Linked DNA regions of Homo sapiens: region 2 is linked to region 1. The links come from fine-mapping of genetic effects on gene expression. A gene starts in region 1. The other region holds a variant in brackets. All regions are shown on one strand. Distances are between the middles of the regions. Region 1 holds the start of PXN-AS1 (PXN antisense RNA 1). Region 2 overlaps PXN (paxillin).

Region 1 (5,226 bases):
CTCTCAACCATCAGTGTAAGAGGGGGCAAGGCTGACAGCATATACCTCCAGGAAGCGAGAATGCAGAGTTTCCTCTGTGATATCAAGCACTTCAGGGTTGTAGATGCTGCCATTGTCGAACACCTGCTGGATGACCAGCCCAAAGGAGAAGGGGGAGATGTTGAGCATGTTCAGCAGCGTGGCTTCGCTGGCTCCCACTTTGTCTCCAGTCTTGATCAGCTGCACATCACTCTGAACCAGATAATAGTGGGGCAGTAAACACCTGTTGGACAACCAGCAGATCCATGGCCACTAAAAGCAGCTCCCCATTTGCCTGGTTAGCACAGGCAAACCAGGTCCACTCACCAGGATTTCAATGGTGCCCCTGGAGATTTTAGTGGTGATACCTAAAGCCTGGAAAAAGGAGGTCTTCTCGGGCCCGAGACCAGTGTTCTGGGCTGGCACAGTGACTTCACATGGGGCAATGGCACCAGCACGGGCAGCAGCTGGCACCTGACAAAGACAACAAACAGTGAGAAAAGCCTCTCCACTCACACAACCTGAGAATGGTCCATTTTGCTTTAAGGAGCAACAACAAAGTCTCTTTAGCCAACCCAATTGTCCCCTTACCTTATTGGCCAGCAACATGTCCCTGATCTCAGTGAGGTCCTCCTTGGTGAACACAAAGCCCACATTCCCCCGGATATGAGGCAGCAGTCTGCAAAGAGAAGTTTATGGGAGACAATCACCTTTCAGCACCATTCTCCAGGAAGAGGGAGACGGGCACTGGGGAGAAAGGACAAAACTGCCAGGGGAACTGACTTCTCCAGAGCTGGGTTGTTTTCCAGGTGCCCTCGGATGGCCTTGCGCATCATGGTGTTCTTGCCCATCAGCACCACAGCCTTCCCGCGAAGGGACATGCGGATCTGCTGCATCTGCTTGGAGCCCACATTGTCTGCTCCCACAATGAAACATTTCGGATAATCATCCAATAGTTGCTACAAAAAACAAGCCAGAGGAGCCAAGTTTAACAGGAAGAGAGAGGGAAAAAATGCCAGAAGAAACTGAACCCCACAATTTGTTTCCATCCCACTCCCTTTCTTCTAAGCTTTTGAAGTCAGAGGGAGATTGGGAGCTACGTTGTAACACTGCCAAACTGGATGATTGGCTAGCTGGGTATGAACGCTGAAAATTAGGTTTCTACATTCAATCAAGGAGTTTTTTCTTTTTTTACTTAGTTTTTAATTTTTCCCAATTACCAGGCATGCTTCTGATTCACTAAAATGGTTAACAGGATAAAAAAGGAATGTTCCAAGTAAGTTGGTCAAGAGGAGGGCTAGATTCACAGCATTAAAAGCACCACGTTAAGCAAATATAGCAACATTATTATTTGTAAAAACAATCTAGGCGTGTTTATCCGGATTGTTACACAATTCCTTTGGGTTTTGTGTCTGAAAACCTTCTAAGTGTGGGAAAATGTAATACAAGCTATGCTCTACAATGCTGCCTAATTGCTTAAGCGCAGTACAGTCAGCATTTCTGGGCAAGGGAGACCCACCTCAAAGGCCATCCAAAAGTCATTGGACACTTAAGTTTCTTGGCTGACAGGTCCTAAATATGCAACAGCTTGCTTCCTTACAATGAGTCATTCCTGACCTCAGACCTTCTCAAAAATGGAGTAAAACTGTAATGTGCGGCCGGGCGCGGTGGCTCACACCTGTAATCCTAGCACTTAGGGAGGCCGAGGAAGGTGGATCATGAAGTCAAGAGATCGAGACCATCCTGGCCAACATGGTGAATCCCTGTCTCTATTGAAAATACAAAAATTAGCTGGGTGTGGTGTCGCGCCCCTGTAATCCCAGCTACTCGGGAGGCTGAAGCAGGAGAATCGCTTGAACCTGGGAAGCGGAGGTTGCAGTAAGCCAAGATCAAGCCACTGCACTCCAGCCTGGACAACAGAGCGAGACTCCGTTTAAAAAAAAAAAAGTATAAAGCGCGCTCTTTTAGAAGCCAGACAGACCTGGATACGAATGCTGTCATCTTAGGACCCACTTAACTTGCCTGAGCCCGTTTATCTGCAACAGAAGGGACCTATCTCAGGAAATTGTTAACTAAACAGTATTTTCCCAAAAATGGCCTAATTCAGTAGCCGGTGTGAGTAGACCCTCAGCACATAGCAGCTGACTGTCCCTATTTGCGCTGGGGCAACATGAAGAGCAGAGGCGACCCACCCTGCACTTACGATGATCTTAAGGAAGTAGTTGGACTTCCAGGTCGCCCTGTCTTCCCTGGGCATCACGGCGGTGCGTCAGGGATTGCCACGCAGGGTTTAAAGACGATGTCACTGAGGAGAGACAGGGAGCTCAGGCCTGGTCACGCCGACACCCATCCCGCGGTCCCGGGCCTAAGAGGAGCAGGACACGCGCAATCGCCCGCCGGCCCTGCCTAGGGCAGCGGCCGTCATCTCGGGGCGTGCAAGCCGCCACCGAGGCCCCAGGCGGAACAGAATAGGACTCCATGTTCCCAAAGGCCCCCAAAGACCCCTCCATGCTTCCCGCCGGCGACCCCTGGCGCCCATCTAACTAGCACACGAACCTTCCACGAGGACGCCTGGCGAGAGAAGGGCCTCGCGCCCGCGCGTGCCTTTTATAATGCGAACAAAGTAGCCAATCAGAAACCGCGGATAGCGCTCCTGTCTATTGGCTGCGCCATCGCCCGTCAGACAAAGCTGAACGAATACAGGCAACCATTGGATAATATCGCTGCCACTCCAGCCAACGGAAAGCCGCCTTTAAGTAGGGTCGCGAAGGAAGGCGCTGCCTCGCGTTGGAGGAGCTTGCTCTGAGCTGCTGCCACCTGCTGGGCTGGAGCTGGAGCTGGAGCTGCGAATTCGGAGTCCCGGTTCCCTGTGCCACCTGGCGAGCTCAGCAAACTAAAAGGTATGACGTGGAGCTGAGACATAATTGCACATGCTTAGAAACAGAATGGTTTCTCTTTTTTTTTTTTTTTTTGAGACGGAGTGTCGCTCTGTCGCCCAGGCTGGAGCGCAGTGGCGCCATCTCGGCTGACTGCAAGCTCCGCCTCCCGGGTTCACGCCATTCTCCTGCCTCAGCCTCCGGAGTAGCTGGGACTACAGGCGCCCGCCACCGTGCTCGGCTAATTTTTTTTTTGTATTTTTAGTAGAGACGGGGTTTCATCATGTTCTCCAGGATGGTCTCGATCTCCTGACCTCGTGATCTGCCCGCCTCGGCCTCCCAAAGTGCTGGGATTACAGGCGTGACCCGCCGCGCCCGGCCTCAGAATGGTCTCTCGTCTTCTCTAGTTTTTCCGCCTACCAAAACAGAGGGATCCTTTAAAACCTGGCCGGGCGCGGTGGCTCACGCCTATACTCCCAGCACTTCGGGAGGACGAGGCGGGTGGATCACCTGAGGTCAGGAGTTCGAGACTAGCCTGGCCAACATGGCAAAACCCCGTCTCTACTAAAAATACAAAAATTAGCCAGGTGGGGTGGCGCATGCCCGTAATCCCAGCTACTCAGGAGGCCGAGGCAGAAGAATCGCTTGAACCCGGGAGCTGTGAGCTCTGCAGTGAGCTAAGATCACACCATTGCACTCTAGCCTGGGTGACAGAGAGGGACTCCATCTCAAAAAAAAAAAAAAAAAAAAAAAAACCTAAGTCAGCTCATCTCCTTATCTGCTTAAAACTTTCCGTTTCCTACAGAGTAAAAATCTAAAACCTAAAGTACCTACAAGGCCCTTACCTATCTGTCCCTCACGCCCACTCTGATCATCTCAGATGTTTTCCTCCTCACTTACTTGCTTTCTACCCAGATGATGCTCTGCTGCTTTTCCAGAGCAGGCTTTACTTGGGGGCTTTTGCATTAGCCATTCCCTCTTCCTAGAAAACTAGCCAACAAACATCCATAGAATAATTCACCTCCATCAAATCTTTTTTTTTTTTTTTTTTTTTTTTTTTTTTTTTTGAGAAGCAGTCTCACTCCGTTGCCCAGGCTAGAGTGTAGTGGAGCAATCTCAGTTCATTGCAGACTTGACCTCCCAGGCTGAAGTGATCCTCCCACCTCAGCCTCCCAAGTAGCTAGGACTACAGGCACACACCACCACGCCAAGCTAATTTTTTGTACTTTTTGTATAGATGGGGTCTTGCCATGTTGCCTAGGCTGATGTCAAACTTCTGGGCTCAAGCAATCCTCCCACCCTGGCCTCCTAAATTGCTGGGATTACAAGAATGAGACACCTTGCCCAACCCTGAGATCTCTTTTTTTTTTTTTTTTTCACTGAAACCTATGGAATTATGTATTAAATGATCCCCAAAGAATCAGCTATTTCAAAATTAAAAATTATTACAAAGAGCTTCATACATCATGTTATATCCTATATCACACACCATAAAACTGTCAGAAGTAGGCCGGGTGCGGGGGCTCATGCCTGTAATCCCAGCACTTTGGGAGGCTGAGGTGGGCAGATCACGAGGTCAGGAGATCCAGACCATCCTGGCTAACACAGTGAAACCCCGTCTCTACTAAAAAATACCAAAAGTTAGCCAGGAGTGGTGGCGGGCTCCTGTAATTCCAGCTACTTGGGAGGCTGAGGCAGGAGAATTGCTTGAGCCCAGGAGGCAGAGGTTGCAGTGAGCTGAGATTGCGCCACTGTACTCCAGCCTAGGTGACAGAGCAAGATTCCGTCTCAAAAAAAAAAAAAAAAGTTAGAAGTAGCTCGATTTCACGTTACTGTATTTCTTTTTCTTTTCTTTTTTCTTTTCTTTTCTTTTTTTTTTTTTTTTTTTGAGACAGAATTTCACTCTTGTTGCCCAGGGTAGAGTGCAATGGCGTAATCTCGGCTCACCACAACCTCCACCTCCCGGGTTCAAGTGATTCTCCTGCCACAGCCTCCTGAGTAGCTGGGATTATAGGCATGTGCCACCATGCCCGGCTAATTTTGTATTTTTAGTAGATACGGGGTTTTTCCATTTTGGTCATGCTGGTCTCGAACTCCTGACCTCAGGTGATCCACCCAGCTCAGCCTCCCAAAGTGCTGGGATTACAGGCGTGAGCCACTGTGCCTGGCCTGGGGTCTCTTTTATTTGTCTTCTTGGCTATCTGTGTTCCATGGGAAGGATGGAAAATAACATGAATGAGATTTAAATGCTGTTTTGACAGGTTATTAAGATTCCAATCACTCCAGGTGCGGTGGCTCACGCCTGTAATCCCAGCACTTTGGGAGGCTGAGG
Region 2 (5,226 bases), 43 kb after region 1:
TGCCTGGACACTGACCCAGGCAGCAAACTCCAGTGAAGCCACCCCAGTTCAGGAGGCACAAAACAGATGTGGCCTCGCTTGGGTATCCAAGGCAGAGCCACCTGCACCTGTCTCACGTGCCTCCTCCAAGACCCTCCCTCCGATGCTCTCACTGGGACAGCCTCACCTTTACTAGTGATGGCTCCAATCGCGTTCACAAACACATAGTGTGCACGGGCACTATGCTGGGCATGGGAGGGGCAAATATACAATGCCTGTCTCCGGGGAGCACTGACTAGTGGGAGACTGTCATAAACGAGGGGCAGAAGGCCCTGAAAGCGGCAGTGGGCCAGGAGGAAAGGGGAGGGGCTTTCCAGGCAGAGGTGGAAAACAGCCTGGGAAAGTGCCCAGACAGAGGGGATGGGAGCTCAGAGTGCAAGTCCCAGCTTGATGGAAGAGGAGTCAAGGGCCGAGGGCCCACTGGGGAGTCTGGACTTACAAGGGCAAGCCACAGAAGGAAGGCGGTCAGCAGCGGAACAGCAGGACCAGGCTTGCACTTTACATCACTCAGGCAGGGGAGATCAGAGGGAGGCAGGGCTCAATTGGAGGAAGAGCAAGAGTTGCAATACTCTACATGAAATCAGGTAAAATCAATGTTACCTGGAAACTGAGTGGATATGGAGAAGGAGTGAGGAGTGCAGGATGCCTCCCATGTTTGTTTCCTGCAGGAGGGATGGAACAGATGAGACAGGGAAGAAGGTCTGCGGCAGGGGTCAGGTAATGACGGTAACAAGGATCAGGAGTTACACCAAGAACAGGCAGAGCCACAGTGTTCCCTGAGCCAGGGCCCAAGGACGTTTTTCTCTGGCCAAGGCACCTATCTAAGTAACAGTTTGTTAAATTATATGGTACCCTTCTCCTGAACACAAGTTGTTCTCCCTGTCTGGCTTTGGGAGAACCTCAGGAAGTTGCATGCAGCCTGCTCTGGGAATTCTCAGAGTGTTCAGGAAGACCATGGGCTCCCTTCCTCTGCCCGCACCCATCTGCACGAGTCTGCCTCTGAAATTCAAATAGAAAGCCAGCCCCATCTCTGACAGCCGTCCTCCAGGAAAAAGAGGGGTCAGCCTAAGCAGGTTATCAGAGGAACCAGATCCTTCCTGCCACATGAGCATGCGGCTCACCACTGGGGCCAGAGGGCCCAGGACACAATCTCAGGCCTCAAACCCTCATGGAAATGCCCTTCAGAACTGACCCACGGCCCCAGCCCCAGCTGACCACAGAGAGACTTTGCACAGATAAAGCTCATCTCATGGCCAAGTGTGGTGGCTCATGCCTGTAATCCCAGCACTTTGCGAGGCAGAGGCGGGCAGATCACTTGAGGTCAGGAGTCCGAGTCCAGCCTGGCCAACATGGAGAAACCCTGTCTCTACTAAAAATACAAAAATTGGTGTGGTGGTACACGCCTGTAATCCCAGCTATTCAGGAGGCTGAGGCAGGAGAATTGCTTGAACCTGGGAGGCAGAGGTTGCAGTGAGCCAAGATTATGCCACTGCACTCCAGCCTGAGCGACAGAGCGAGACTCGGGCTTTAAAAAAAAAAAAAAAAGCTCATCTCACTGTAGGATAACAGATGCCCCAAAGGCCAGCCCCATCTCAGCTATCGTAGCAAGGTCATCCCCAAAAGGTCATTCCAATGAAGATGCAAAGCCTAATGACTGTCCTTGGCCTTGTGGCTCAGGATAAGTTTGATTAGCTTGAAAGATCCAACTGGACACAGGGCACCAAATCACTACCAATGAACTAAACACACATGCTTGCACACACGTCCGCCCTCCAGGCCTCTGCATGAGCTATTCCCTCTCCCTAGACCTCTCTCCTGTCTTCTTTACCAGGCTAAATCCTTTCTAATCCCTTGAGACTCATAATAGCTTAGTTTATCTTCTTCAACGAGAGGATAAAAAGGATCCATCCTGCCTACCTAGAGAAAAAGCAACGTGTTGCTTTTCTGCTGGGAAGGTCTCTTTCCAAAATCTTATTACAGAATGACCATTTAAGTAAAGGACAAAGGTTGGGGCCTTTTCTAAATGTTGAGGTTCTATTTAAACACACAACAAAAGGCCGGGCATGGTGGCTCATGCCTGTAATCCAAGCATTTTGGGAGGCCAAGGCGGGACGATTGCTTGAGGGCAGAAATTTGAGACCAGACTGGGCAACACAGCAAGACCCTGTCTCTACAAAAAATTTTTAAAAATTCGCCAGGTGCTATAGCACATGCCTGTAATCCCAGTTACTTAGGAAGCTGAGGCTGGAAGATGGATTGAACCCAGGTGTTTGAAGCTGCAAGTGAGCTATGATGGCATCACTGCACTCCAGCCTGGGCAACAGAGAAATCCTATCTCTTAAAACACACACAAAACAGAGTCAGTTTAGGATCCCATTTCCTCCAGGAAGCCCTCCCTGACCTTACTCTCCTACAAAGGGTTTGAGGCTCCATTCCTTTGAGTTCCCAAAGCACTGTGCACTTCTCCTATGAGAACACCTCAAGCTGGTAGGAACTGTCTGCCTAAGGGGCCATGTCTCACAGCCTAGGAATAGCACATTGTGGGTAGGGAGTACGCCTATATTCATCTTCATCTGAGCATTGGGCAGAGCCTAGCATATAATAGGGGCTCCATGGATGATACCAAACAAATCAACAAATGACCTGCGCCAAGTCAGTCTGCTGCTGAGATCAGCCTTGCCACTTCAGCTCATGCCACCTCCTGGTCCTCCCTAAGAGCTCACTGTATGCAAAGCCCGGTGAGGGAGAGCAACACAGGAGCACAGGGCCCAAGTTGTTCCTACTCTTCTATCCCAGAATGTCCCATCTACTGTGATCTAGTTGCCACCACCCCTCCCCAACCAGCAAAACTCCTACCCTAAAATAAACAAACAAAAAAATAGCTGGGCATGGTGGCCACATCTGTAATCCCAGCACTTTGGGAGGCTGAGGTGGGTGGATCACAAGGTCAGGAGTTCAAGACCAGCCTGGCCAAGATGGTGAAACCCCATCTCTACTAAAAATACAAAACTTGGTCGGGCGCGGTGGCTCACGC[C/T]TGTAATCCCAGCACTTTGGGAGGCCGAGGCGGGCGGATCACGAGGTCAGGAGATCGAGACCATCCTGGCTAACACGGTGAAACCCCGTCTCTACTAAAAATACAAAAAAAATTAGCCAGGCGTGGTGGCGGGCGCCTGTAGTCCCAGCTACTCGGGAGGCTGAGGCAGGAGAATGGCGTGAACCCGGGAGGCGGAGCTTGCAGTGAGCAGAGATCGCACCACTGCACTCCAGCCTGGATGACAGAGTGAGACTCCGTCTCGGAAAAAAAAAAAAAAAATACAAAACTTAGCTGGGCGCAGTGGCAGACGCTTGTAATCCCAGCTACTTAGGAGGCTGAGGCAGGGAAGTGTTTGAACCTGGGAGGCAAAGGTTGCAGTAAGCCAAGATCACGCCACTGCACTCCAGCCTGGGTGACAGAGCGAGACTCTGTCTCAAAACAAATAAATAAATAAAATAAAATAAAATAAATAATAAATAATAAAAAAAAATCAAAGGAATAGTCCACAAGACTTTGTGGCTGGAGCATAGCCCCTTGTGGGTACTTAAGGTTTAAACTCACTGGGTGGCCTATCTGGCTTCCTTTGTGGGTGGGGAAGGGGAGCTCCAAGAGGTGGGCTCAGGGCATAGGAATGAGGCAGCTGGGAGGGAGTTGGGGCCTGGGACTGGGTGACTCTCTGGCTTGGTGCTGGGGAAGGAGGAGGAGGGGCATCACGTAGCAACAGAGCAAGAAGGAACAGGAGTGTGGCAGCCCCAGGCCCTGCAGATCTGGTCACACCTCTCCCCATGGAGCAGAGGAGGCAGGGGACATGAGCTGGAATGTGCGATTTTCTCAAACGTGCACCACCGGAATGTGTCAGCAACACCAAGTGTGGGGCTGTGTAGCCCAGAGAGACTGACAGCATCGATTATCATGACTGAAGCACAGATGGGATGAGCCACAAAGCACGTACAGATTAGTGAGGCTGAGGGAGTTCACAGGCAGGGAAACTAGCCAGGGAGGAAGAAGACAACACGTTCTCAGACGAGAATGGGAAAAGGAGGGGAAGAAAAAAAAAAACAAAACAATGTTTTCCTGACATTTTTGTTAACTTCTTTAGTCTTCAAAAAAAAAGAATGCGGCCGGGCACAGTGGCTCACGCCTGTAATCCCAGCACTTTGGGAGGCCGAGGTGGGTGGATCACAAGGTCAGGAGATCAAGACCATCCTGGCTAACACGGTGAAACCCCGTCTCTACTAAAAAATACAAAAAATTAGCCGGGTGTTGTGGCGGGCACCTGTAGTCCCAGCTACTTGGGAGGCTGAGGCAGGAGAATGGCGTGAACCCAGGAGGCGGAGCTTTCAGTGAGCCGAGATCGCACGACTGCACTCCAGCCTGGGCGACAGAGCGAGACTCCATCTCAAAAAAAAAAAAAAAAAAAAGAATGCTAGAAATATTATAGTAAATTTGTGGACAAACATAAAAGGTGGACTACATAGTACGGGTTTCATAATATATGTAGAAATAACAAAAAACAGGAGGGGGAAATGGAAATATACTGTTCTTACATTATACGTGAAATGGTATGGTATGATTTGAAGGCAGATTGTGATTAATTTAAACCTGCAAACCACAGAGTGACCACTAAAATCAAACCAATGAAGTATAGCTAAATAAGCAAAGAGTGGAAATAAAACAGAACCCTAAAAAATACTCAATGAATCTAAAACAAGGCAAGAGGCCAGACACAATGGCTCACACCTATAATCCCAGCGCATTGGGAGGCCAAAGCAGGAGGATTGCTTGAGGCCAGGAGTTAGAGACCAGCCTGGGCAACACAGTGAGATTCCGTCTCTACAAAAATAAAAATAAAAAATTAGGCTGGGCACAGTGGCTCATGCCTTTAATCCCAGCACTTTGGGAGGCTGAGGTGGGCAGATCACTTGAGGTCAGGAGTTCGAGTCCAGCCTGGCCAACATGGTGAAACCCCATCTCTACTAAAAATACAAAAATTAGCTGGGCATGGTAGCGCATGCCTGTTATCCCAGTTCCTCCAGAGGCTGAGGCATGAGAATCACTTGAACCTGGGAGGCAGAGGTTGCAGTGAGCCATGCACTCCAGCCTGGGGGACAGAGAAAGACTCTGTCTCAAAAAAAAAAAAAAAAAAAGAAAAA

The links. PIP is the estimated chance that this variant, and not a neighbour inherited with it, causes the effect. A credible set is the group of variants that fine-mapping cannot tell apart.
Region 2: its variant is the best candidate, but not a certain one, in a credible set for the expression of PXN-AS1 in whole blood (TOPMed, PIP 0.59).

What each region holds. Positions count from the first base shown.
Region 1 is chr12:120,198,509-120,203,734 of GRCh38, forward strand. PXN-AS1 (PXN antisense RNA 1) reads left to right here and starts at 2,783. Exons shown (of 4, transcript NR_038924.1): 1 at 2,783-2,918. It overlaps RPLP0 (ribosomal protein lateral stalk subunit P0), which reads right to left and starts at 2,603. Exons shown (of 8, transcript NM_001002.4): 1 at 2,575-2,603; 2 at 2,222-2,323; 3 at 802-977; 4 at 610-697; 5 at 346-492; 6 at 46-231. The coding sequence starts at 2,275. RefSeq lists enhancers at 1-187, 307-1,248, 2,289-2,358, 2,759-3,118.
Region 2 is chr12:120,241,314-120,246,539 of GRCh38, forward strand. All of the region lies in intron 1 of PXN (paxillin), which reads right to left. Among named protein-coding and RNA genes, the nearest start is that of PXN, 22 kb to the right of the region's middle. RefSeq lists an enhancer at 3,533-4,359. The variant C/T (reference allele first, on the strand shown) is at 3,074.